2 separate regions of the Homo sapiens genome follow, and region 1 is linked to region 2. Evidence: fine-mapped expression QTL. A gene starts in region 2. The other region holds a variant in brackets. All regions are shown on one strand. Distances are from middle to middle. Region 1 holds the start of KANSL3 (KAT8 regulatory NSL complex subunit 3). Region 2 holds the start of ARID5A (AT-rich interaction domain 5A).

Evidence for each region.
Region 1: its variant is fine-mapped to the expression of ARID5A in whole blood (INTERVAL, PIP above 0.99).

The regions. Positions count from the first base shown.
Region 1 is chr2:96,635,115-96,643,437 of GRCh38, reverse strand. It overlaps KANSL3 (KAT8 regulatory NSL complex subunit 3), which reads left to right and starts at 5,126. Exons shown (of 21, transcript NM_001115016.3): 1 at 5,126-5,155; 2 at 6,253-6,517. The coding sequence starts at 6,303. FER1L5 (fer-1 like family member 5) reads right to left here and starts at 674. Exons shown (of 53, transcript NM_001293083.2): 1 at 517-674. The coding sequence starts at 601. RefSeq lists a silencer at 5,197-5,406 and an enhancer at 7,357-7,466. The variant C/G (reference allele first, on the strand shown) is at 4,995.
Region 2 is chr2:96,533,272-96,541,594 of GRCh38, reverse strand. It overlaps ARID5A (AT-rich interaction domain 5A), which reads right to left and starts at 4,843. Exons shown (of 7, transcript NM_212481.3): 1 at 4,765-4,843. The coding sequence starts at 4,768. RefSeq lists enhancers at 2,522-3,067, 3,285-3,404 and silencers at 3,675-3,884, 4,565-4,924.

The sequences.
Region 1 (8,323 bases), 100 kb before region 2:
GCAGAGGTTGCAGTGAGCCGAGATCACACCACTGCACTGTAGCCTGGGTGACAGAGTGACAGTCTGTCTCAAAAAAAATAAAAAATAAAAAATAATAATAATGCCTTGTCAATTGTAAAGCTCATGCAAATGAAACTAATATGATCAAGCAGTTATTACTAAAAGTTGTACTAAGGGCTATACACATATTATCTTTTTAAACTCCCGCATCAATCTGAGGAAGCAGGGACTTTCTCTTTAAACCTTAGTTTATGGCACAGCTCCAGGTCATGGAAGAAGGTCCAGAAGCACTAGTCCTCTCTTTTTTCCATAGCCATTCCCTAGCAAAAGTGGGAGGCAGAGAAGTCATAATCAAATGATAGCAATAAGTTTTGAGAGAGCTGGACAACGTCTACTTCACTTTGTGTTACACAGGGCATCTTTTATGTAGTGGGGTGCCATACACCTCTTTTTTCACTGAATCCATGTTGCCTCTGGGGGCTTCTCTCTCCCATGTGGACCCAGGGAGGCTCTCACCTCTGAAGTCGATGGACATGCAGGGCCTGGGTAGTGGGGCTAGTGGTGGGTCAATCTTGGCCGACTGCACCACAAGCCGCAGCATCTCGGAGACCTACTTTCTTCCCTCCTTCCCTACGCAGCGCCACAGCTTCCTTTTTGGAGCTCCTCAGTCCAAGACTTTTCCCAGCGATCCTGGGGTGAGTGGAGCCCCACTTCCTGTCTGTTGCTAAGCAACAGACAGGCTGTCACAAAGGTGGGCGGTTCTTGGTTCTGGAGAGGAATTAATGGGAAAGAGAAGGGGGAGGAGGAACAGGGTATAGGTGACTGGGCCTGTAGAAACAAAACCACCTGGCTGCTTTCACCCCCTTTTCTTATTGCCCAGGCTGGAGTGCAATGGTGCGATCTCAGCTCACCGCAACCTCCACCTCCCTGGTTCAAGCGATTCTCCTGCCTCAGCCTCCCGAGTAGCTGAGATTACAGGCATGCGCCACCACGCCCGGCTAATTTTGTATTTTTAGTAGAGATGGGGTTTCTCCATGTTGGTCAGGCTGGTCTCGAACTCCCGACCTCAGGTGATCTGCCCACCTCGGCCTCCCAAAGTGTTGGGATTACAGGCGTGAGCCACCAAGTCTGGCCTTAAAAAATTTTTTTTTGCCCACCCCACACCTGCCCTCCTTGCCGTCCTTTTGATTTCAAGGTCAGACATAAGGTTGATGTTTTCTCCTTGTACAAGCAAGTTGTCTGGAGCCAATCATTGCCAAAGTCACACAATGTAGATGAGAAAATAAGAAAACAGTGAAGTGACCTGAGAAAAGGGATAGGAAAATCAAGGACTATTTCTGTGAGGTCTCAGGGAAAGTTCTTCCTAACGTGGAAACCTTTTTACTAAGAAAAACCTAAGTTTAGATACGAGACCCTCTTTGACAAAAGGAAATTAGCTTTTGAATTAATGAGCTCATATGGAAGGTCAAAGAAGACAATGCGGTTTTGAAGTGGCTGTCTTTATGGCTGTCTGAGCCTCTGTGCATTAAGATGGAGCTGGGGCACCTATTCTTATTGTCCACAGCAAGGCTTTTTAGGCTTTAGGGTTGAACATCGTATAAATTACATCTTATCCAATAGTTAGAATGAAAACTAATGAATATTTAAATGCTGGGATTGGTGGCTCATGCCTGTAATCCCAGCACTTTGGGAGGCCAAGGTGGACGGATCACTTGAGGCCAGAAGTTCGGGAACAGCCTGGCCAACATAGCAAAACCCCATCTCTACTAAAAATACAAAAATTAGCTGGGCGTGGTGGCACGTGCCAGCAATCCCAGCTACTTGGGAGGCTGAGGCAGGGGAATCGCTTGAACCTGGGAGGTGGAGGTCACAGTGAGCCAAGATTGCACCACTGCACTCCAACCTTGGCAACACAGCGAGACTCTGTCTCAAAAAAAAAAAAAAAAAGGCCGGGCGTGGTGGCTTACGCCTGTAGCCTGTAATCCCAGATCTTTGGGAGGTTAAGGCGGCCGGATCACGAGATCAGGAGATCAAGATCATCTTGGCCAACATGGTGAAACCCCGTCCCTACTAAAATACAAAAAATTAGCCGGGCATGGTATTGCGCGCCTGTAGTCCCAGCTACTCCGGAGCTGAGGCAGGGGAATCGCTTGAACCTGGGAGGCGGAGGTTGCAGTGAGCCGAGATCACGCCACTGCACACAAGCCTGGCCACAGAGCAAGACTGTCTCAAAAAAAAAAAAAAAAAAAAAAAAAACAATGTTTAAGAACAATCTATTAGTTAATGAAACAACTACTTAGCAGTAAGCGTACCACGCAGTCTAAGAGATGAATGGATTCAAAGACTGAAACGCTGGGTCAGTGATCAGGGTGCTGATTGCTTTCTAGTGCAGCAGATTAAAAAAAAAAGTGCTTCTTGGAAGTTTTTCTTGAAATCTAAACACAACACAGTGCTTTTCGCTTTGTGAATGGCTTTTCAAAGTAAGCGTGACACAAAAGACCCTGTAAGTGAAAAGCTGACAGATTTGACTGTATTAAATAAAAAATTCCTATGTAGAAATTATGCCTTAAAGCTAGAAGACAAATATCAAAGCAGGGAAAACATTTTCAATATACTTAATGTCCAACAGTTTATTTAATAAATGTTTATAGAGCAAGCTCTTAATAAGAAAAGGATGACTATCCCAAAGGAAAACAAAGGCAAAGCTCCTATCAGATAATTGCCCAAAATGACAAAAAAAAATTTTTTTTAAAAAACCCTCAGTCTTGTTAATAATCAAAGAAATACAATGAAATACAATTTATGACTTTGCCAAATTGGTTTCAAAAGCCAAAAAAGATGTAAAAAAAAAAAATCAAACTCACTGGGCACGGTGGCTCACGCCTGTAATCCCAGCACTTTGGGAGGCCAAGGCGGGCGGATCACGAGGTCAGGAGATCGAGACCATCCGGGCTAACACAGTGAAACCCCGTCTCTACTAAAAATACAAAAAATTATCCGAGCATGGTGGCACACGCCTGTGGTCTCAGCTACTCGGGAGGCTGAGGCAGGAGAATCGCTTGAACCAGGGAGGTGGAGGTTGCAGTGAGCCGAGATCACGCTACTGCACTCCAGCCTGGGCGACAGAGAGAGACTCTGTCTCAAAAAAACAAAAACAAAACAAAACAAAAAACTCATTAATAAGCAAATAAATGGGATAAGATACCATTTATCACCTCTTAAATTGGCAAAGAATGAAACAAAATGATAAACGTGGTGTGCTGAGGAAAGGAAGGGGCAGAGAAAAGATACAAATCTGTTTTTAGTGGGAATGGGAATATAAGTAGAGAAATAGCAGAACCCTGGCCCCAAACAAGCGCCCAGGAGACAAAGTTAAGGGTAGGGAGAGGTGGGGCAGGGGCTGCTCTATTTGTGATAATTTCTATGGCCTTAAGCTCCATATTTCTAAACAGCACTTTTAAATAGCATTCCTTGATTTTTTCAAATCTATGAGGCATTTTCCCAGTTTTATTGTTTTCCCCGGGGCTCTCCCTCCTGGTCTTCTCTTCTCCCCCAGCTGAGACTAGTGGTCCCCAGTCCTGCAGCATAGCTATTGTCCTGGGATACTCTTTGCCATCACCTTCAGAATTCCTCGTCTGCTTCTTGTGTTAGACCCTGCTTCCCCGATCCTATGCCTTCCGTCTTCTCAGTTTACCCTCTCATCTTTGTGGAACACAGCTTTGAGTGGCTTTCTGAATGTTTCGAGTGTTTGCATGTCTGTACCTATCTTTTTTTTTTTTTTGAGACAGAGTCTTGCTGTGTCGCCCAGGCTGGAGTGCAATGGCGCGATTTTGGCTCACCGCAACCTCTGCCTCCTGAGTTTGAGAGATTCTCCCACCTCAGCCTCCCGAGTAGCCGGGATTACAGGCATGCGCCACCACACCTGGCTAATTTTTGTATTTTTAGTAGAGACAGGATTTCGCTATGTTGGCCAGGCTGGTTTTGTACTCCTGAACTCGTGATCCACCCTCCTCAGCCTCCCAAAGTGCTGGGATTACAGGCGTGAGCCACCGCACCCGGCCATTTCTTTTTTTAAATAGAAACGAAGTCTCACTGTTTTGTGCAGGCTAGTCTTGAACTCTTGGGCTCAAGCAATCTTCCCACCTTGGCCTCCCAAAGTACTGGGATTATAGGCATGAGCCACAGATCCCGGGTGAGATTTATCATCTTGAACCATGTCTCTTGCTGTCTTGTCTCATGTCTCTTGATGTCATGTTGTCAGTCAGTCAACCAAATAACCAATTATTGATCAGTCAACATTTGAACAATTACCTATGTTCTGGGTGTATGTTCTCTGGAGGATACAAAGGTTAATGTCCCTGATTTTGAGGATCTACTCTCTCTACACAAAACACATAGGAAAGTTAACCACACAAAACAATCTAGGGTCAGTAACAAAATTCTTTTTTTTTTTTTTTGAGACGTAGTCTCACTCCGTCGTCCAGGCTGGAGTGCAGTGGTGCAACCATGGCTCATTGCAGCCTGGACCTCCCAGACTCAAGTGATCCTCCCACCTCAGCCTCCCGGGTAGCTGGGACTACAGGCATACACCACTATCACACACACCTAATTTCTAAAATTTTTTGTAGATACGGGGGTCTCATCATATTGGCCAGGCTCATCTCAAACTCCTGAGCTCAAGAGGTCCTCCCGCCTAGGCCTCCCAAAGCGCTGGGATTACAGGCGTGAGCCACATTAGGTAAATTCTTAATGAGTAAATTCAGGTGGCTGCCCTGGTGGAGGTGGACCGTTGGGTGCTCGACCGCCCAGAGGGCACAAAGGACCAACACGGTGGGGGTGGCGAGAACTGGGGCCGTAGAAGCCAGCCTAGTCCTCCGCCCTCGCTTTCCCTACTGAATATGCGCGAGGGGGAAACTCCAGCCTAGTTGTTGACTTTCTGCTTCGGACATGCTCGCGTGTTCTTGGCTCTCCTCTTCCGGACAGAGGCGCCGGAG[C/G]TTCATCCGTTCCGGGCTTTGCCGCTCACCGCCTCTCCCTTCCCAGGCCGTAACCCGCTTCCGCGTTTTACTCGGTGCCCGCAGCGCCGGGGCGTGGAGGCGTTAACGCGCACGCGCTTAGGGATCCGGCCGTGGCCGAGCGCGCGGCCGTAAGACCGCGGGTGAGAGCAGCGTTGGCTTCGAGGGGAGTGGCGGGCCGTGGGGATCGCGGCCGTGGTTGGGACGGCCGGGGGTCTCGGCGAGGGCTTCAGGGCTCCCGGGGCATGCGGGGGCCCGGGCTAGGGCCGGCTGCCGGTGCTGGTCGGGCGGGGCGGGTCGGGCCGGGGGCGGGCTGGCAGGGGCCGCGTCTGGGCCTCCGTGACGCGGACGCCGAGCCCTGCCCCAGGGAGCGGGAGGCGGGAGGCGGGGGCCAGGCGGCTCCTCCTCGTCGCGAACTCTGGATGACCTTGGCCAAATCGCTTCAGTTCCCCGAGCTGGCGACTTCGTCTGTAAAATGCGAGTCATAGCCCTGTCTCCTAGATGGGCCGTGTGGAGGCTCAGTGGCGGGAACGCCTGCGGGGCAGCCGGGGTCCTGGGCGGTTTGCTAGGGACGCCTCACTGGGGGTGAGGGTGAAAGGGCTTCCACGGGGATCATTTTGTCACAGGCTTTGTTGGGGGGGCAGTTTTCATTTTTATGTAAACAACTCTGGAATATTACGAAGTACTTAACAGAACTTTTGTTTCGCACAATACGAGAGGCTTGAAGAAGTGGAGCCCTAGCTGGGATTCGCTTTTTTGAGGCCGGCGTTGCCCTGCCCTTTAGGGGTGCCCACGCTCTAGCTGCGGCCCCGGCTCCCTTCGCATTGTCGTTAGAGGATGGTGTGAAGCAACAGAGATCCTTAGCTTTCAACGAATTCATATTTGTGATTTCCTGTTTGTCAAAACCCTTCCTGCCCACCTAGGAAGTGGTGCTGGCCAAGCAAGTTTACTGTCTGTCCACGCGAGGTCTTTCTGAACCTTGGGGTCGGTGAGCTCTCCCGTTAGGTAATTTCAGTTCGCTAGAGGTTGAGTATGGGACAACTCGTGGCACCATAGTTTTTTTTTTCTTTTTTTTTGGTGTTGGTGTGGGATTCCACGAACCGTCCCCACCAGAGGTCTGCCGTGAAATGGATACTCAATAGGAATGATAGTAGGTTACAAAAGTAAGCATGTTAGATGGTGTAGATTGGGAGAAATTTAGGATATTGGAATTGACCTAAACTGAAACTTTTCACTGCAGGTGACTAGCATGCAGATACCCATGCTCTGACTTTCTGCCCCTCCACTGACATGGCCCACCGGGGTGGGGAGAGGGACTTCCAGACTTCAGCTCGACGCATGGGCACCTCGCTGCTCTTCCAGCTTTCAGTGCATGAACGGGAGCTGGACCTGGTTTTTCTGGATCATAGCTATGCCAAGCCTTGGAGTGCCCACCCAGATGCCAGTAGTGCCCGCCCCACCCGCATGCTCTTTGTCACTCCCCGGCGGCAGCACGAAAGTACCATGTGAGTTGGGGCTTCTAAGGGCTGCTGGTAACCTCACTGGGCAGTGATCAGATGGGAATTTAGAGAGGATTTTCTCAGGATTGACTGGGGGAGATTGTATGAGGCATTTGGATGTTAAATTCAGGCATCTCTTAAGCAGCATAAGGATAGCAGGCTTGAATGTGGCTATCTCTGTGAGACAGCTAACAAGAGTTAGGAAAGCAAGACGTGCAAATGAAAAGCAGACAACCTATTCCACTTAGATAGTAGGACGTGTGGAAAGGGGAAAATCGTAGAGGGTTATTTAACTGGTGAAGAAAAAGACTGAAAAGTTGATTTTAAAAGATTACCCACAGGATACGACTCTTTTATCACATTAGTCCAGTGCTCTGGGTTGCTTGACAGTGGCAACAATAGCCTTTTTATAGTAATGCATTTTGCTTTTCTTGGTTTCACACACGAAGGTTAGGAGCCAATTCCCAAGACGTTGCTTTTTCTCTTCCCTTGTTACAGAGCTGCTATCCATAGGTTAATCTAAACCCTTCTTATGTCTAATGATATTTTCACCCAGCCTATGTTATAGGGTAAGGAAGTTTCATAAATTGACTACCTGATGAGTGATACAGTTACATTTGGTCTAAATAAACCTGTTTGCCAGTTCTTTTGCACTTTAAGGCATTCTAATTATGTTTCATGATGTGTTGATATATTCCGTTATGGTGATCAAATCATGTCCTTAATAATTTTGTAAACTTTTGGAGAAGAGTTTTGTCTGTTTGTTTTTAATCTGACCTAATGTTTAATCTTTCCTTAAGCACTGGTTTTAATTTTGTTGGGGGTTAGAGCCCTTGTAGAGGCTTCTTTAGAGTCACCCCTCCTGGAATTGAGACTTAATGACCTAATGAGTTAGAGATACCACAATGTGTGTGTGTGGTTTTTTTTTTTTTTGAGATGGAGTCTTGCTCTGTCGCCCAGGCTGGAGTGCAGTGGTGTGATCTTGGCTCACTGCAACCTCCACCTCCTGGGTTTGAGCGATTCTCCTGCCTCAGCCTCCTGAGTAGCTGGGACTACCGGCGTGTGCCACTGTGCCTGGCTAATTTTTGTATTTTTAGTAGAGACAGGGTTTCCACCCACCATGTTAGCCAGGCTGGTCTCGAACTCCTGACCTCAGGCAATCCACCCGCCTCGGCCTCCCAAAATGCTGGGATTACAGGCATGAGCCACCGCTCCTGACCCACTGTGTGTTTTAAACATGTGCAGAATAGTGTCTTTTATTTCATTTCCCAATGACTTTATAATTTTGTTGGCTTTTTTGGTGTACAGGAGATAAAATCTGTAACTTTAGGCAATAATTTAGCATAATCTTGATGCCTCTGGCCTAGGGCATAACTGAAAAGCTCCTTTAAATAGTAGTTGAAGTCTTTTCCTTTTTTGCTGCATATTAGCTTCTTGCTGACATTAAAACTCCTGTGTCCACATCTCATGACATTTTCTTAAAGTGAGATTCTGTGGACTTGGTTCTTTTGGTACTTAGAAAATTGTTTCCTTTTATAATCTCTGTCTCCAAATATAGACCCTGAAAGTGAGAATTTGGCATGCTGTAAGAACTCTTTTAGGCCAGTGTGGCCAGAATATAATAGCAGTAGGGGTATAAGTGGGAGGTAGGGAGAAGTTGGCAAGGGTTACCTCGTGAAGGAATTTGATTCTAAGAGTGGTAAGAAGTCACTGAAGGATCTTAAACTAGAGATTCAATTTATACTTTAAAAAGATCATTTTGGATTTTTTGTTGAGTATATTATAGTGCAGGAGTAGAACTTACAAGACCAG
Region 2 (8,323 bases):
TGGTTGGGGGCCCCAGTGAGTAGCCTCCTCCTCCAATGGTGTAAAATGCTACTTTCCCCATAATGTCAGTGCTTATAAGGAACACATCTGGGACTATTTCTGGACTTTCTATTCTGTCTCATCCACAGTGGGATGCTAGGACCTGTGCACACTGTTTTAATTTTTGTAGCTTTATAAAACAACTTACTATCCAGAGGGCAAGTTGCCCAATATTACTCATCTTTTAAAAATATTCCATTTGAACTTTGGGATAATTCTGTTACATTCCCTTTAAAAAAAAACAAAAACAAAAACACTTTGGGAGGCCGAGGCGGGCAGATCATGAGGTCAAGAGATCGAGACCATCCTGGCCAACATGGTGAAACCTCGTCTCTACTAAAAATACAAAAATTAGCTGGGGGTGGTGGCGCATGCCTGTAGTCCCAGCTACTCAGGAGGCTGAGGCAGGAGAATCGCTTGAACCCAGGAGGTGGAGGTTGCAGTGAGCTGAGCTCGCGCCACTGCATTCCAGCCTGGCGACAGAGCGAGATTCCTTCTCAAAAAAAAAAAAGGCCAGGTGCGGTGGCTCACGCCTGTAATCCTGGCACTTTGGGAGGCCAAGGCAGGCAGATCACTTGAGGTAAGGAGCTCGAGACCAGCCTGGCCAACATGGTGAAACCCCATCTCCACTACAAATACAAAAATTAGTGGGCGTGGTGGCACACGCCAATAATCCCAGCTACTCGGGAGGCTGAGGCAGGAGAATTGCTTGAACCCAGGAGGTGGAGGTTGCAGTGAGCTGAGATTAGGCCACTGCACTCCAGCCTGGGTGACAGAGACTCCGTCTCCAAAACAAACAAACAAACAAACAAAAAACCCCCACTACTGGGGCTTTGATTGCATTTAAATTTAGAAACTACTTTGAGGAGAAATAATACCTTTACAGTATTGCATCTTTCTTTTCAGGACCATGTGTCTCCATAATTCAGGTTTCCCTCTGCAGTCCTCAGAAGTTCCTTCTTAAAAAGCCCCTGTGCTTTCTTGGGGAGGTTTATTCCTAGTTTGTTCCTTGAGTTTTGTGCAGCTAGAAAATGGTGTTAGAAAAACCCTGATAACAGTAGTTCACTCCACAAAAGCCCCCCTGCGATTTCCTCATTTCACTGCTGGGAAGAGGGCCGAGGCAGGCTAGGTGGCTGCGCCAGAAGATGAGCCTGGGCTCCTAGTGACCCAGTCCCTTACTAAGCAGAGAGGGGGTGCGGCAGGGTGCTGGGCAGGAGGATTGCCTGAGGCTCTTCCTGTGCTATGAGTCTGATTTCTTTCCAACTCCATAGCTCCTGTCTGAGTCAAGCTCAACTCCCAGATCCTAAAACTCCAGCACTGAAGATGTTAGTCTGTCACTGCCTCCAGTAGAGGATGCTCCCATAGGTCTACTTGTTCTCAAGTTACATGCTCCACCGACTCAAATCAGTGCCCTGGCTGGTGTGGGCTAGGCATCTCATACAACATTGCATTGCTGAATCTTCCCAGCCATCCAGATATAACAGATATAATGTCTGAGGCTCAGAGAGGTTCAGTAACTTGCCTGGGGCCACAGAGCTTATCCATGGCAGAGCTGGGATTCAGAACCAGGGTAGTCTGACTCCTGAGAGACGCTGATCCCTGAGAGCTAGAGATTTTTTTCTTTCTAATGGGAGCAGGGAGACCTCAAGTTCCTTATCTGTGCTCAGAGGATGCAAACTTGTCCCCTTTCCCCAAGTAGATGTGCAGTTTCCCAGCACATCGCTCCTGTCACTCTGCTAACAAGAGCAGGTCTGTGTTGACTGCTAAGGCATCCAGGCTCAGGGATGGGAGGGGGCTGGTCAGAGAGCTGGGCAGCAGCGGGGAGAGGGGGAGGGCCGGGAAGGGGCATGGCCCCCACACTCTATGAATCAACTTCCCTGGCCTGGGTCGGGGAGGGCCCAGAGGACCCACCATCTTTGAATAAGGGGTGTTATCTCCATAATCTTGAGGAAGGAGGAAAGACCTGTTGATACCTACTGAGATTCCATTTAAAAAACTGCTACCTGTTACCTGAGAGAGTAGGGGGCCAGCTCTGGCCAGGGCCCAACCAACCTGGCGAAGCAAAGGCAGGTATGCAAAGGCAGGAAGGTGAAGGCAGTCGGGCGGTGGTTGAGAGTCACTGAAGACAAACTTAAGATGTCTCACGGGGCTTAGCCAGGACTAGAAGGTAGCTATGGGGCCAGGCAGTGGGTGGATGCGGGGAAGTCAGTGGGCCCCTGCCCTGCCAGACATCAAGCTGGAAGCAGATGAAAGTGGGCCAAGAGGACAGATGGGGCAAGGGGTTCCAGCACTGCATGGCTGCACCTCTTACCAAGTTGGTCACTGGTTCTGTATCTCCCTTTCCCCATCTACAAGATGGGCGTGCTAGACTCAATGTGCCCAATGTTCTCAGCAGAAAAAAGTGAGAAGAGAAAGGAGGCTTCCCCCACAAACCACAGCCAGGCTCAGTGAGAAGATCAGAGGCCTGCCTGTCCTGCTCCCTCCCCAAGGCACCTCGCTGCCCAGCAGGTGCTCCGGAAACATCAGCCTCCTGGGTGCAGGATGAGCGCAATGGACTTACAGACCCCTGTTGCCCAGAGAGGGGCAGTGACTAGTACAAGGCCACACAGCTCTCAAGTTTAAGGGTCTGCTGGAGGCACACACCCCTTTCCTTCTCTCCCTCCCCATCTTTCTGCTGCCCGCCCCACTCACCCTGGGTGTGATGGGAAGGAAGTGACACTTCCTTTCATGAAAAGTCACCGACTGGGAACACTGCGTCAATTACCACAATAATGGTAACAGCAGCCTCAATAACAACCAGCAGACGCCGCCCCGCCCCCTCGGCTGAGGTTGTTGGCTTAAGTTTCTCTAAGCTTGAGCTGGAGCAAAACAAAGACAGCCTTTGAAGCGGCGAAACGGCCGGTCCACTCGGCAGCCCGGGAGCGGCGGCCAGGCCGAGTCTACGCGAGCTTGCTCCAGCAGTTTGGGGAGGGGGGCCTGCCAAGTGTTGAGCTGGAGCCAGCAGTGAGAAGAAACGCGATGGGCCTGGGACCCCCACTCCCTAACAGGGCACAGGTGCAGCTCAAGCCACAGCCCAACCTCAGTACCTCAGCTTGGGGGAGGGCGAGAGAGACAGGGTCTGGGGGCAGCTGAGGCCACAAGAGCCACCAGAGGGTACAGAAAGGGAAGGAGGTGCGGGGGACACTGAATGTGAGGCTACCAACTTCCAAGCCCCATTCTCCCTGTCCCTCTTACCGGGCTCTGGGATGTCCTAAAAGCCCCAGTTCCAGGATGGGACTGTCCCTCCCCACGGAGTCTGGGCCACATTTGGTGGTGACGGACAGTGAGAGCTCCTCAGATGGTTTCGTGTGTTCCCATTTCACCTACGGGGCAGAGGCTCAGAGGTGCCAGTTGACGTCTCTCAACTGTAGAAGCAGATTATCGGAGGCCCTTTCTACCTCTGCCACACCAAGTTCTAGGCCCCAGGCGGGTCCCTAAGGCCTGGATTGGGCTCTGAGCTCTGCTGCGGGGTGAAGCCCTCGAGCCCCGACCTCCCACCCCTCCTGTGCTCTAGCGTTGCCTGTAGGCGCAGTGACGCCACCGTGCGTGTGGGCTCCCACCAGAGGAGCCCGGGTGGGGCAAGAGGCACCTGTTGTCCTCCCCTGGGGCCCGCGGAGCACTCCTTACTGGCCCAAGACTCTGCAAACAAAGGGACACTGGACCCGCAGCGCCTTGGGACCCCCTGGGCCCTCGGGGGTCCTGCACCGCGCAAGCCCCACCACGCCGGCGCTGGGCGGAGGGTGACGCGACCCCAGCCCGGGCGACCCCTAGACACCGCGGAGGGACGGAGCGCGGGCCCGGGTTGGCCCGCAGCTCCCGCCGAGCGCGAAGCCGGGCATCGCCTGCAAGCTCGTAGCCCACGCTCTTGCCCTCTTCCCCTGACGCTCCCCAGCCGCCACCCCGTCCCTTCTGCAGACCGAGGGAAGACAAGGGGACACACAAGGGACAGGAGAGGAGAGCAACCAGGGAAGCGACCCCTCTCCTGTGGGGCTGCGGCGGGTGGGCGGAGAGACAGGAGAGGAAAAGAGAAAAGGGAAGAGAAGGAAGGGGCAGGGGGCGAGAAGCCGGGCTCCCCGGACCATCGGCGCAGCCCGCGGCCGAAAGAGGAACAGTGGATCCTACAAAGCGCATTGAGCAAGTTCTTCACACCCGCGCAGCCCCTTTCAGGAAACGGCGGCCGCAGAGGAAAGGGCCGCGCGCTCTGGACCCGGAGTCTGTGCCCGGCGGCGCCGCGGTTCTGAAACCTGCGGGATGTCACGGGGCGGAGGGGCGGCTGCCGACAGCTGTCACAACAAATTAGCTGAGCCCAGCTCGAGGTGGAAACCGCAGCAGGAAGTGGGACGACAGAGCCGTACCGGGCTCGGCATATTTCAGGCAAGAGACGGCGAAAAGAGTTTCGAGATAAACGCCCGGGAAGCCCCTGGCCGCCAAAACTTTTTGTCTTTCCTTTTCTCGAAGCTCGCGCGGACGCCCAGCCTCACCCCTTCCGCGCCGGCCGGGGAGCGCTGAAGCCGCGGGCCGGGCTCGCTCCCCTTGGCCCGCGCCCCGAAACCCACCCCGGGCCCCTCTCCGCCCCACACAGCGCACCGACTGCCACGAGGGCTGGAGGGGACCCGGCGCCGGCACCTTGAACCTCCCTGCAGGGCCGCCGAGCCCCTGTCCGGGCCGCGCCGCAGAGCCGCTTACCCATGGCCCGGAGAGGTCCCGCGGCGCCCGCCCCGAGACCCTCAGCGCGCGGCTGTCCGGACCCCGCGCTCTCTGAGATACTGGCTCGCGGCGCGGCCCGCCGGCCACCTCCCCGCAGTCCCGCCCCGTCCCGCCCCTGCTCGCCCCACTCCGGGCTCCCATTGGTAAGCCCGGCTTCGTCGCGCGGAGAAGGCGGGGGGCGGGGACCGCCCTTGAGTCCGGGGACCTCTGGGAATTGTAGTGCGCGCCCCTCGCCTCTAGGCTTTCAGACTGGAGCCCCTGGAATAGGCTCCTCACCTAGAGGAGCGGAGGCAGGACCCTCAGTAATCATTGCTGCCTTGTGCCTCAGTTTCCCTGGAGGCAAAACTAGAGCCTTGGAAAAAGCCTCCTTGCTTTCAGCAGAGCACTGAGGACTCTGTGGAGCGAGCAAAGTGCTTCTGACTTTGATTTGAAAGTGGCCCTGTGCATTTCCCAGTCCCCACCTAGCCCAACAAAGAAGGCCAGGTGAGGCCGGGAGCGGCGGCTCACGCCTGGAATCCCTGCTTTGGGAGGCGGAGGCGGGAGGATCACTTGAGCCCAGAAGGTCGAGGCTGCAGTGTGTTTTGATCACACCACTGCACTCTATCCTGGATCCTGGGCAATAGACGGAGACCCTGCCTCAAAAAAAAAAAAAAAAAAAAAAAAAAAAAAAAAAAGGAGAGGTGGTTAGTGTGAGCTAGACAAGGACCAAACTAGTAAATCCTTGGCCTAGGCTCTGTGGCCAGGCCTGCCAGTAATAGTCAATGTCCACACACATAATGCAGACAGAGTGTGGCAGCTACAAGCTGAGTAGTCCAAAGAAGGGGCATGAGTTCAGGCTGTGGGAGGTGGGAATGAGGCCTAGGGCGAATGGAGGCAGGAGGAGGTGCCCAGCCAGCCATAGCAGCAACCTGGACCTGTGCAGGCCAAAGAGGAAGAAATGGAGGCTCAGGGTTTCAGTCTCAGCAGGTGGCTAGCTAGGATGGGAACCCTGTTCCTAGCACATAGAAGCTACACAAAAATCTTTGTTGATGAATTTTAATACTCATAATAGCTCTATGCACTTGACACCATCATTGTCCTCATTTTATAGCGTAAAACTGAGGTCTGAGAGATTAGCTCAAGTAGCACAGCTGGTAGGTGTTGGAGCCAGAGCTAGACCCAGGAAGAGGAGCCCTCATACCCAGGCATCCCCCCACCCGCTTTGCACCCATTACTAACCACTCATCATACTGGTGCCCCTCCTCACACTAAACGAAGGGACCAGGGCTGCAGTTTGGTGAACCTGAAACCCTGGCCCTTACCCTTTGGCCCTGGGATGGAAGATGTCTGCAGGCTCAGTCTAGAGCAGACGACCCTGTGGGCTCTGCAGGATAAATCCCCTGTCTACCTCATAATGGGTTGGCTTGTAAGAGCCAGCACCTGTAGAATTGGTAATAGACACCCAGAACAATCATAATGGTAATTATAACAATGCATCCCACTTTGGCAAGTTTACAAGCCACTTTCCCCTCCAGGAAAGCTAAGGCTGTGGTGGAAGACACTATGATGGGATGCCATCAGGAAGCACCTTTGTACATTCTGGAAGCATTGATTGGCAGGCACTATGCCCAAGGTTGGGGATGGAGCTCTGGATGCAGCCCCCGGGGTCACAATCTAGGCCAACCCCTCACTTGTGGGTTGGATACCCCTAATGACAAGGAACTCACTATCTTATAAGACAGCAGCTCATCCCACCAAGAGTTAGGGTTATTCTGCCATCCGGGCAGCTGGGCACATTCTGACAGACAAGGGCTGTTGTGCAAAGCCTCAGCAAGTCAACACCTGCCTGTGCCAGCCTGGGAACGATAGGATCTAAATTTAATTGCTTCCTGAGGCAACTGTTTGCAATAGAAAGTAATTTACAATGGCCAGTAAATCCTGCAGAAAACAGACATCTCCATTCATCTGGCTAAAAGCATAAACACTTCCATTGCTCAAGCCTCCATCTCACACACCTCCACTCCGGCCCAAAGCCACCCTCCTCTGCACCCTCCAACCACAGGATCCCAGGCCAGGACGCCTCTGTGCCTACAGAGGGGGTCAGCTAGCCCCTCAGTGTCCTGGTGTCTCTCTGTGTGTCTTAATAATAAGAAAAACAAACCATCACTTATAAATAAACACATTCGTCCTGTAAAAACATGCAAGTAAATCAGCCCTCTCTGATGCTACACCAAATCCAGTTCCCTCCCTGCCCCAGAGGTAAAGACCCATCAGATTGGGTGAAGTCTTCCAGAACTTTCCCTATGTGTATTTTCAAAACTATATATGTATCCATGGTATAGAAAAATAGATAGCTTTGTTTTATGTGTGTGTTTAAAGAAACGATACAATTCTCATTGCTCCATTCTGAAACTTGCTTTTTCGATCACCGCTAGATCTTACAGACTTTCCTTGTTGGAACACAGATCTGCTTCTTTGGGAACTGCTGGGCTGTGTGCCCAGCACAGTGTATTTAATCTCCTCTTGATAGCGTTTAATCTTTTTGCAATTACATGAATCCTGCTGAGAACATTATAGACCCCCTTAGAACAGTTCCAGGGCTAAGGAGCTCACAAAGTGTTCCCAGAGACTGAGCTAAAAGCTGCTTTCTAACTCCCACCTCCATGTCCTAGCACCTCTTGTTAGCCCATTTCTAGGAAGAAAATCTGGCCCTGGGGGTGGTTCTCATCCTGGAGCTCTCAGAGATATAGGGACCATTCAAGATCATCTGTCCACCTGGTCTCATTTTAGAAAGGAGGTCACCAGGCCAGAGAGGTTAAGCAAACTGTCCAAAGTCACACAGCAAAATCAGTGCTTTTGTTTCTTCTGGGACCTGCAAACCCATCCAGTGCCCTCAGGAAACAGAATGCACAGCCAGTCTTCTATCCTGGGAAGCTCAGTTCCCAGGCTCAGCAGTTGCCAAAGGCCCCTGGGGGTTTGTTTTCAAAGGAGAAATGAAGTGGGGAAGTATTTTTAACGCGGCCCCGCCCTGCTTGCCTAACTCCTCGTTCCCCGTGCTAGCTGTCCAGGAAAGGCCAGCTTCACAGCAGCATTTGCAACTCATGGAAAACAACAAATGCCCGAAATAGATGATACCCAAGCTCAGGAATGGAAAAAATTGGCTCATGGTTCAAATGCCTCTTTTAGAAAAAGACAAGAATAGCTTTTGGCCTTTGGGGAACTGCTGGGGGTGAAGGAGTGGGGAGGTGGTTGTGAGTCCCAGATCACCAAGGGCCAACTTCCTGCCTGAAAGAGCTTTGGCCACTGTACCCCAGGGCGCGTGTAAACCAGCTTCCCAAGCTTTGTCCACACTGGAAGCTGCATCTGCACCTGGCTCTAGGTTCCCTCCAACCTCCAGCCAATCTGGAAAGATTTCCTGTGTTGGGCCAGGGCTGGGCTGGTTTCCCCTCTCCACCCCACATCTCCCCAGTGTGTCCCAGCAGGGTAGAAACCCATGGTTCTGAACTTCCTGAGCCTGAAGGGTGGAAGCTGAATTCCCCTGGGGGAGGGGAACGGAGGG